Regions from separate parts of the Homo sapiens genome. Here region 1 is linked to region 2. Evidence: fine-mapped expression QTL. A gene starts in region 2. The other region holds a variant in brackets. All regions are shown on one strand. Distances are between the middles of the regions. Region 1 has its middle 30 kb from the start of TMEM86A. Region 2 holds the start of IGSF22 (immunoglobulin superfamily member 22).

What was found. PIP is the estimated chance that this variant, and not a neighbour inherited with it, causes the effect. A credible set is the group of variants that fine-mapping cannot tell apart.
Region 1: its variant is the best candidate, but not a certain one, in a credible set for the expression of IGSF22 in sun-exposed skin (GTEx, PIP 0.63).

Annotation. Positions count from the first base shown.
Region 1 is chr11:18,666,378-18,671,749 of GRCh38, reverse strand. It overlaps the pseudogene SRSF3P1. Among named protein-coding and RNA genes, the nearest start is that of TMEM86A, 30 kb to the left of the region's middle. RefSeq lists an enhancer at 2,793-3,294 and a silencer at 4,522-4,722. The variant G/A (reference allele first, on the strand shown) is at 2,851.
Region 2 is chr11:18,723,985-18,729,356 of GRCh38, reverse strand. IGSF22 (immunoglobulin superfamily member 22) reads left to right here and starts at 3,169. Exons shown (of 23, transcript NM_173588.4): 1 at 3,169-3,283; 2 at 5,088-5,229. The coding sequence starts at 5,121. It overlaps PTPN5 (protein tyrosine phosphatase non-receptor type 5), which reads left to right. Exons shown (of 15, transcript NM_006906.2): 15 at 330-1,429. The coding sequence ends at 423. All of the region lies in intron 2 of IGSF22-AS1 (IGSF22 antisense RNA 1), which reads right to left.

The DNA.
Region 1 (5,372 bases), 58 kb after region 2:
ATTACAGGCATGAGCCACCATGCCTGGCTGATCTGTATGTTTAAATAGTCGCAAATCTCAAAAAAATTTTTCAGTGTATTTATGGGGGAAAAATCCCATATATAAGTGGACCTGCACAGTTTAAACTCATGTTGTTCAAGGGTCAACTATATTTTGTTATCGCAGCCAGAGCCTGAGCCAAGTAAGACACCTTCTTTATTCCATTATCTCATAACTCCATTATCCTCAATTCTCACTTTCTTGTCATATAGTAGCATCACCAGGTTACATGGTGACTCACCTTCCAGTGCCCTTGCATTTGCTCCACAAGCTGCCTTAGGTTCCACCTGGCCTCCAACCCCCACACCTCCTACAGATTTGAGCATGCCCTCCTCGGGGCCCTCCAGCCCCCTTTAATCAAGATATGAAAGACAGACAGACACTAATATTTAATAAAACAGTTAAAACTGTAGGCTCTGAGGCCAGAATGTCACAGTTCTATCCTCTGCTAATTCCCTGACTTTAGGCAAGTAATTCAGCCTACCTGTGCTTCAGTTTCCTTATCTGGAAAACAAGGTCATTACATGAGTTAGTCTACCCATAGTACTTGGAACAGTGTCTAGCACATTACAAACATTCAGTAATTGTTACCATAATTAATACCCTGTCTCGGGCACAATGCTAAGTGCTTCATATGTAGTATCTTATGTAATTTTGATGTCAACCCTGTGAAACAGAATTGTCATCTCCTATTACATATAAGCAACATCCCTGGTCACTGTATCATTTTATCTTATTTTATTGTTTTTGTTTGTTTTTTGTTTTGAGACAGGGTCTCACTCTGTTGCCCAGGCAGGAATGCAGTGACACCATCACGGCTCACTGCAGCTTCCACCTCTCGGGCTGAGGTGATACCTCCTGCCTCAGCCTCCCAAGTAGCTGGGACCACAGGTGCACACCACCACACCAGCTAATTTTTTGTTTATAGTAGAGACAAGGTCTCACTATGTTTCCCAGGCTGGTCTCAAACTCCTGGGCTCAAGAGATCCTCCTGCCTTGGTTGGGGTTACAGGCGTGAGCCACCATACCCAACCATCTTATCTTATTGTCTTTTTAGTATCTACTACCATTTCCATATTACACCATTTATTAGTTTTCTTGTTTATTGTGTCTCCCCAACAACCCTGCATGCCTGAAAGTTCTAAGAGATAAAGAGACTTTGTCTTGTTCACCACAAAATTGCAGTGCCTAGTAGTAAATTCTCAATAAATATTTTTGAATACATGTATCATCAAATGAATGAAAAGGAGAGGTGAGGCCAGATGTGATGGCTCACGCCTGTTACCCCAGAACTTTGGGAGGCCGAGGTGGGTGGATCACCTGAGGTTAGGAGTTTGAGACCAGCCTGGACAACATGGCAAAACCCCGTCTCTACAAAAAATACAAAAAATTAGCCGGGCGTGGTGGCAGGCGCCTGTAGTCCCAGCTACTTGGGAGGCTGAGGCAGGAGAATGGCGTGAACCCGGGAGGCGGAGCTTGCAGTGAGCGGAGATTGCGCCACTGCACCCAGCCTGGGCGACAGAGCGAGACTCCATATCAAAATAAAATAAAATAAAATAAAATGAGAGGTGAACTTGCTAGGACAAGGTCACACAGCAAGTAAGTGACAGAACCAGATTTGACATCAGGTCTAGATGGTTCTAAAAATCAATATTTACTTCTGCTTCCCAGAGCAGCCACAGCTGGGGGGAAAAAGCTGTAGAGGGCAGGGAGAGGGAGTGGACAACATTCAGCTCCCTAAGCCAGCGCTTCCCCTCTCTCCTCCCATTGGTCAAGTGACATCACAGCTGGCGGAGTCGACATTGATATCCAAGGTGCTTTATGGACTAGCAACCCAGCTCCAGGTTGCACTTACAACCTCTTATGTCTCCACATCTAAGGGAGAGTAAATCTGTCTGATAAATCCCTGGGAGTTACGTCATTGATTAAAGGCTATGTGCATCTCTTCTTTTGATATTAATCCAAAGAGGATGCACCAGTCTCTACTCACATAGTATTTTCTCACACTTTCACAACAGAGTACTAGTAATCTTTTTTGATATTTTAATTTTTGCCAGTCTGAGAGATGCAGCTGGAGACTGCAATATTCTAAACCTCCCCAAATTGCTCCCGGGGATAACATCTTAGGTTACAGTAAAACCTAAGATCAGTGCTTGAGATAGTTTGCAGATCCTGTACTCGATGGATCAGCTGACACCACCCAGATCAATAAACTGGCTCATCTGGTCTTGTGGCCCCCACCCAGGAACTGACTCAGCGCAAGAGGACAGCTTCAGCTCCCTATGATTTCATCTCCAACCTGACCAATTAGCATTCCCCACTTCCTGAGACTCTACCCACCAAATTAACCTTAAAAACTCCAGTCCCTGAATTTCTGTGACCAGTCTCTGCTCTACATAGTATTTTCTCACACTTCCACAACACAGTATTAGTAATCTTTTTCATATTTAAATTTTTGCCAATCTGAGAGATGGAAAAGAACTCATTTTAGGTTGACTAATTCAATTATGAGTAGGACTATGCATTTTTTTCTTTTTCTTTTTTTTCTTTGTTTCTTTTTTTCTGAGGCAGAGTTTCACTTTTGTCCTCCAGGCTGGAGAGCAATGGCACGATCTTGGCCCACTGAAACCTCCGCGTCCCGGGTTCAAGTGATTCCCCTGCCTCAGGCTCTTGAGTAGCTGGGATTACATGTGCCCACCACCACGCCCAGCTAATTTTTTGTATTTTTAGTAGAGATGGGGTTTCACCGTGTTGGCCACGCTGGTCTCGAACTCCTGACCTCAGGTGATCCGCCTGCCGGAGCCTCCCAAC[G/A]TGCTGGGATTACAGGCGTGAGCCACTGCGCCCAGCCCGTCTTTTCTTGTTTATTAGCCATGTATAAGCTGTTTGTCTGTGAGCTGCCTGTTCCTGTCTTTTGCTAATTTGATTTGAGATTCTGCATGAGGACCTAGAGCGGCCCCAAAGTCCCACACCCGTCCGCTCTTCTCTCCCCACTATCAGCCCCTCCCCCTGCTCTGCTCGGTTCTCTACTGCTGCCTAGTGACAGGGGTTAGTCTTACCACAGGCCTCACAGACGCAACTACTGCCTGCCTCTCCCTGAGGATAAATTTCCTGCTGGAATCATGCCCTTGATTCCTAGGTGGGATTGCCAGGTGTAGTTAATAAGAATGCAGGACCTCCCGTTAAGTTTTTAGGATTGCCAGGTTTAGTTAATAAGAATGCAGGATCTCCCGTTAAGTTTGAATTTCAAACAAGCAAGTACCTTTTTAGTTGTGACATACTTTTATCCAAATTTAACTGAGTGTCCTGTAATATATCTGGCAACCCTATTCCAAGGCTTCCCATTAAATTTCAGTCCCCACCCTCCACCATTCCTCACTGGCTCTCATTCTCAGCAAGTTCCATTCTACTACATTCCTCCCCAGTGGTTTCCTAAATGGCACGGTTAGGCGGTACATGAATCACCGTTGTTAAGACCTTGTCTCTGGCTCAATCCTGGGTTTGAATCCTAGCTCCAAACACTTTGCTAATTTCTTTTAAAACTGTATCTAGTCAGAACTTAATCATTTTATTGCATATGTTTTTACAGTTGCCTTCTATTTAAGTCGAGTGATAGTGAATTCCCAGATTTCTTTTTAAAACAGATTTAAGGCCAGGCACGGTGGCTCACGCCTGTAATCCCAACACTTTGGGAGGCCAAGGCGGGTGGATCACGAGGTCAGGAGTTCAAGACCAGCCTGGCCAAGATGGTGAAACCCCATCTCTACTAAAAATACAAAAATTAACTGGGTGCAGTGGCAGGCTGAGGCAGGAGAATCGCTTGAACCCAGGAGGCAGAGTTTGCAGTGAGCCAAGATCGCACCACTGCACTCTAGTCTGGGCGACAGAGCAAGACTCCGTCTCAAAAAAAAAAAAAATGAAAAAAAAATTTAATCTTTAAAAACCTGAAGAAAAGGGATTGAATAGTACAGATAATAAGTGGAAATGGCAAAAGTCATAAGGCAGCTTCTGAAATGATTAAAGTTTGGGAAATACTGTCCTGTTCCCATCCTGGGAGTCAACACAGATCAGCACAGTGCTGACTGAAATAATGTGCTCCTTTTGTAGCAGGACAAGCTGTAGACAAAACCCCTCAGACACTGAGTTAAAGAAGGAAGGGCTTTATTCGGCCAGGAGATCGGCAAGACACATATCCAAAAAACCAAGCTCCCGAGTGAGCAATTCCTGTCCCTTTTAAGGGCTCACAACTCTAAGGGGGTCCACATGAGAGGGTCGTGATCGATTGAGCAGGTGGGGGTACGTGACTGGGGGCTGCATGCACTGGTAATCAGAACGGAACAGAACAGGACAGGGATTTTCACAATGCTTTTCCATACAATGTCTGCAATCTATAGATAACATAACTGGTTAGGTCAGGGGTCAATCTTTAACCAGGCCCAGGGCACGGTGCCAGGCTGTCTGCCTGTGGATTTCATTTCTGCCTTTTACTTCTTCTAGTTTTTACTTCTTCTTTCTTTGGAGGCAGAAATTGGGCATAAGACAATATGAGGGATGGTCTCCTCCCTTACTTTATGTGGCCCTGGTTTCAGGAGGAACCTTCATAACTCAGAGGGTGCCCAGGGGAGGAGGGAAAACTCAAGCATATATAACTGTTTCATTTGGGGGCTGTGGCAGTGTAACGACTCAACAGGTTTTCCTTGCCTGCTGCCTAGACAAAGCTGATGCATCAAGACAGGGGAACTGTGGCCAGGCGTGGTGGCTCATGCCTGTAATCCCAGCACTTTGGGAGGCTGAGGTTGGTAAATCACAAGGTCAGGAGTTCGAGACCAGCCTGGCCAACATGCTGAAACCCCGTCTCTACAAAAAATACAAAAAATTAGCCAGGCGTGGTGGCAGGCTCCTGTAATCCCAGCTACTCAGAAGGCTGAGGCAGAGAATTGCTTGAACTCAGGAGGCAGAGCTTGCAGTGAGCCAAGATCTCACCTCTACACTCCAGCCTGGGTGACAGAGCGAGACTCCCTTTACTTTACTTTCTTAATAATTTACTTAATTCCTTTACTTTCTTAATAAACTTGCTTTCACCCCGTCTCAAAAAAAAAAAAAAAAAAGAAAAGACAGGGGAATTAGAATACAGAAGGAGTTTAATTCATGCAGAACTGGCTGTATAGGAGACCAGAATTTTATTATTGCTCAAATTAATCTCCCCAAAATTTCAGCAATCTGAATTTTTTTTTCTAATACTTTATTAATTCAAAAGCACTTTACGAGAAAATATAAGTATGGCTTCCAATAGGAATGTTATACCTGGACTTGGTACCAAGCTCAGCTCACAGATT
Region 2 (5,372 bases):
CAGATGGAAAACACTGGCACGGACTGATGGGCAGACAAGGAGTAGCGAGGACAGCTGGGTAGAGGGGCAGGATCCAGACAGTGGGGGGCCAGATGAAGAGGGAAGAAAAGCAGAGCTGGTGGATAAAAGGACAGAGGCCGAAAGTGGTAGGACATGTCATCTGTGTCCCTGATAGGAAGGGGCAGAGGGTAATGGTTGGCAAGGGTTGGTCTCTCCAAGACGCACAGGGGCAAGGCCTGGCAAGTGATTGCTACTCCATGGCTTTTGGGGCACCTCCCACAGCCCATCCCTCCACGACCCTGCCCCCACTGTGCATCTCTGCCGGGCAGGGGCGGCATGATCCAGACATGCGAGCAGTACCAGTTTGTGCACCACGTCATGAGCCTCTACGAAAAGCAGCTGTCCCACCAGTCCCCAGAATGACTGCGCTTCTCCTACAAGGTTCTCTGGGCACTGCCCAGCCTGAGTCTCGGCCCTCACCCAGGGCCCTGCCTCGGGTCCTGGGCCTGCTCCCCGCTTCCTCCCCTTCAGTCAGCTCCCTCTGTCCTCTGTCAGCCTGGCCTGACCCCTACCCTCCAGCATTGCTCTTCCTACTGTACATATTGGGGAGTGGGGGGCAGGGTCGGGAAGGGACATGCCAGGCCAGGCCTGGGGCCCCGGGGCCTGACCCACACCACGCAGACCCCGGGCTCCAGTTTTTAACGATGGTTCCATCAATACCTGATCCAGAATGTTTCCGTGCTACACTTTGTGTCCTGCTGCAATGTGTTCTGTCTGTCCATCCATCTCTGCCCTCTGTACCGGACACTGTGTCTCCTCAGCCAGGAAGGGGTAATGAGCTCCAGCCCCTAAGCAACCGGACTTGCCTGCCTCGGCCTCACCCGCACTTCTCCCAAAAGGCAGATGACGGGGAGTTAGGCATGGGGAGCTCCAGAAGGTCACCAGAGAGCTTTCAGCTGAGGGAGAGTTCTCTAGGTTGGAGTGGGCATCACAGCCAGGGTGGCCTCTGGGTGTCAGATGCTCTCAGGAGGGTGCCCAGCCTGTGAGGCACTGGCAAGGTAGGGGGCAGATGGGGCATGGAGAACCCAGAGGATCTAGGCCCTGTTGGGGAGGGGAGGGGAGCTCAAGGTTTGGGTGGGGACTCAGCCCAGATCTACGTGAGACATTTTTCTGTGTCACTGTGGGAAAGCCTTCCCAGAAGTCTCACTGCGTGTTGCTCTGCGTGTGTTCCCATGTCCATGCGTGTGTTGAGAGCCCATCAGGAGGGCATGCATGACTCTTTGGCAACATGTATTATCTTGGAGCCACGTGTTTTTATTGCTGACTTTAAATATTTATCCCACGGCAGACAGAGACATTTGGTGTCTTTTTATAATTCGCTCGTGGTCATTGAATAGAGCAATAAACGGAGCATTTTGAGCAAAACTAACCTCCTGGGTCTGTGTGATTTGCCTCTCCCCTCCACTGCCTTCCTTCCTGTACTTGGGTCTTTGTGCCCCTCCCCAGCATGAGCACAGTGAGCTTGGCCCTTCTGCTCACTGGAGCCCCTTGTGGAGACTGGGAGTATGGAGCGAGTCCAAATTTGTAAAGCCAAACTGGGAACATTCTGCAGGATTCTCACACAGCCTCAGCCCTGGCCCTGACACATGCTCTGGGCCATGGGGAGCCTCAAGGACAGGTGTGGAAGGCTTCCAGGGAAGGCACAGTGGCTGGCAGGTCACCATTTCCAACAGATGTGCCAGAGAAGCCAAGGCTAGGGTAAGGAGACATTCAGGTCACACCCAGGCCCCTCCCTGTTGGCCAAACTCTTATCCCATGTTAGCTCCACAGATCCCAACAGCAGCTGCAGCCCAGTAATTTCCCTTGTAAGGCCTGGGCTCAGAGTAGCTCCTCCCAAGGGGCCCAGGGAATCTGCATGTGGGCTGAGATCCTGAGCCATCCTGGACACTCCTGCTCTATTCTTGTCCCCTGCCCCCCTGGGATGGAGCAAAAGTAGCCATGATGCCACTGCTGGCAGGTGGGGGTCACCCCAGGGCAGAAGGAGGGGTCCAGGGCAAGGGTGCTGACCAACAAGTCCTTACAAGGTGCCAGAACCTTGGGTGGGATCCAGGGTCCAGGCATGCGGGGTGTGCTACAGATGATGAGAAAACAACAGGGTGGGCTGGACACGGTGGCTCACGCCTGTAATCCCAGCACATTGGGAGGCCGAGGGGTGGCAGATCATGAGGTCAGGAGTTCGAGACCAGCCTGACCAACATGGTGAAACCCCATCTCTACTAAAAATACAAAAATTAGCCGGGCGTAGCGGTGCACGCCTGTAATCCCAGATACTCAGGAGGCTGAGGCAGGAGAATCGCTTGAACCTGGGAGGCAGAGGTTGCAGTGAGCCAAGATCGTGCCACTGCATCCAGTCTGGGTGACAGAGACTCCATCTCAAAAAAAAGAAAAGAAAAGAAAACAACAGGTGGCTGAAGCAGCCCAGATGGAAGTCCTTGAGAAGAGGTGGCCATACTCTCCAGTCACCCTCAAGCAGAGACCTCCCCACAACCCCCGGAGGATGGGCCCTCCTACTCTTCTACCCAGATTAGGGAGATTGGGCTGTTGAAGTGGGAAGAGGAAGGAGACCTAACATTTCCCTGTTCTTCCCCAGGGTGGCCTTGTAAAGATACTCAGGCTGTGTATGAACCACACATAGGAGTGCAACATGAATGGGAACCCCTGGATTTGTGTAGCAACGCAGCAGATCCCAGAGGCCCTCCCCAGTTCACCGTGTCCCAGTCCCTGGAAAATACAGACCTGTTGCTTTGCTCCCTGAGCCCTGCTGGACTATGCATGCACCTGTACCTGAGTGTGTGCCTGTGCACACACACTACCCTGAGCCCCTCAGCTCAGAGAGGTCCTACCCAGCAGCAGTGAGAGCCAAAACCTGTACCACAAGGGAACAAAAAAAGTACCCCTGGACTGCCACCCTCAGCCTCCTTCCCGCCTGGCCTTCAGTGTTTCCCCCAGCCTGGATCCAGCTTTGCTTCCCGCCTCCCTTCTCCACCGCCCTCCCCCTCCCCCCACAACCAAGCAGTGTGCCATCTAGCTGAGACAGCTGCAGAGCCTGACTAAGGAATCGCCCCCAGGGGGCCAGACATTTAAGGAACAGATGACACTGGTAGCCTCACTGTTGGGGCAAAGGAAGAAGGAGACGGGCCACCCTACAGTCCAGGCACTAGCTGAGCCTCCAAAGCCGTGGACACAGCATTCGAGTGTTGGGAGGGACTGGTCAGTGCTGAAGGTAAGGCTCCCCTCCTCCCTCAGGAAGGGGACAAAGCTGACCACCTTCTGAGCCCAGAGGGGACTATAGGGTAGAGGGCAGGAATAGGAACAGGGGAGTAGTCTCAGAACCCAAAGGTAGAAGCAGCCCAGGCAGAGATATATTAGGGGGTGGAGAGAGGGAATAGAGTTTAACCCCTAACTACCTGGGTTAAAGAAGGCTTTGGAGCCCTCTGGGACGCCACTGGACTGGAGTCAAAAGCTAGGAGTCTAGTCTGAGTGACCTTGGACAGGTCATTTCTTTCAGACATCAGTTTCCTCATATACGAAATAGGACTTTAAAAACTGCAATGCTGGGCCAGGCGCGGTGGCTCACGCCTGTAATCCTAGCACTTTGGGAGGCTGAGGTGGGCGGATCACGAGGTCAGGTATTCGAGACTAGCCTGGCCAACATAGTGAAACGCCATCTGTACTAAAAATACAAAAAATTAGCCGGGTGTGATGGCGGGTGCCTGTAGTCCCAGCTACTCGGGAGCCTGAGGCAGGAGAATTGCTTGAACCTGGGAGGCAGAGGTTGTCGTGGGCCAAGATCGTGCCACTGCACTCCAGCCTGGGCAACAGAGCAAGACTCTGTCTCAAAAAAACAAAAACAAAAAAACTGCAATGCTGGCCACATGCAGTGGCTCACACCTATAATCCCAGCACTTTGGGAGGCCAAGGCAGGCGGATCAATCGAGGCTAGGAGTTTGAGACCAGCCTGGCCAACAAGATGAAACCCTGTCTCTACTGAAAACACAAAAATTAGCTGGGCATGGTGGCACGTGCCTGTAAACCCAGCTGCTGGGGAGGCTGAGGCAGGAGAATGGCTTGAATTCGAGAGGAGGAGGTTGCAATGAGCCGAGATCACCCAAAAAAAACCGCAATGCTGGTTAAATAAAACATTGAGAAAACATGGTGCTCTGAACAGGAATGAGGAAACGCTATCATCTGGTATGGAAAAAATCTCCAAGACACATTAAATGAAAAAAGAAAGGGTCAGAATAGTGTGTATAATGGGCTACCTTATGTGCTTTTTTAATTAAAAAAAAAAAAGGAAGATGATAAGAACACATGAGTTTTCCTATTTGCATGATGGAGGTCTAGAAGGAGCCTAGAGACTGGCTACCTGTTGCAATGGGGAAGGTTGTAAGATAGACGCAGGAGTGGGAGGGAGCCTGTCCATATGGATTTTTATATTGTTTTATTCTTTAACTATGTGATTGAATTACCAGTTCAAAGAAAAATGTAAGAAAAACTAAACCTTTGCCTTTACCATGTCGCAAACACAAGCAGAATTGTAGTGATGTTTTGTCATCTGTTTTAGCATTCCACCAGTGCCGGGGTCCCCAGGGCCCAGGAATAAGAGACACAGCTTCCTTCTAAAGCCCACTCCAGTATGGCTTAGTCAGGAAGTTCTTTCTTAGGTCTGACTGCATTCCCTCCTGATGAAACATCCAGCACTGCCTCCTTAGTGCCATGTAGCTATCAATAGGTATCCTCAACTCCCTCCAGGCCTTACTTGGTTGGCTGGGTAAGTCTAAGCCCTATAACCTCTCCCTCTGAGACCCTGGAATAGTTTGGAGTTACTCAGTGAGAGGACAGGCCTATTGGGTCTGGTAACTAACCAGGAAAAGGAAGCTAGGAAATGAAGAAAAGAGAGCTCGACTGCTCTCCTGGCCCTCTCCTGTGTGCTTCCATCTCCTCTTATGTCTGAACACACACATAACATCTCTGAATCTCCCTCCTACTCCCTGTCTTGTCCTTCATGGCCTCATCCTCTTCCCCAGTCTCACAGGTGAGTGCCCACGCCTGCTGTCACCATGACAACCATTCACAGCCGGCAGATGCTGCAGGAGCACGTGTCCATGGAGTTCTCCAGCTCCACCACCCACGTGCAGACCTTCTCCCAGACAACCAAGATCGTGGGAGGCAAGTGGAATGGGGGCAGGGAAGGGATCGGGAAGGGCAGCTATTCTTCCTCCACACCCATCCCTTGGGTGGCCCCAGTTTTGCCACTAATGGGCCCCTCTGGAGCCCACAATACCAACAGCAACCCCCACCCAACGTGTGCT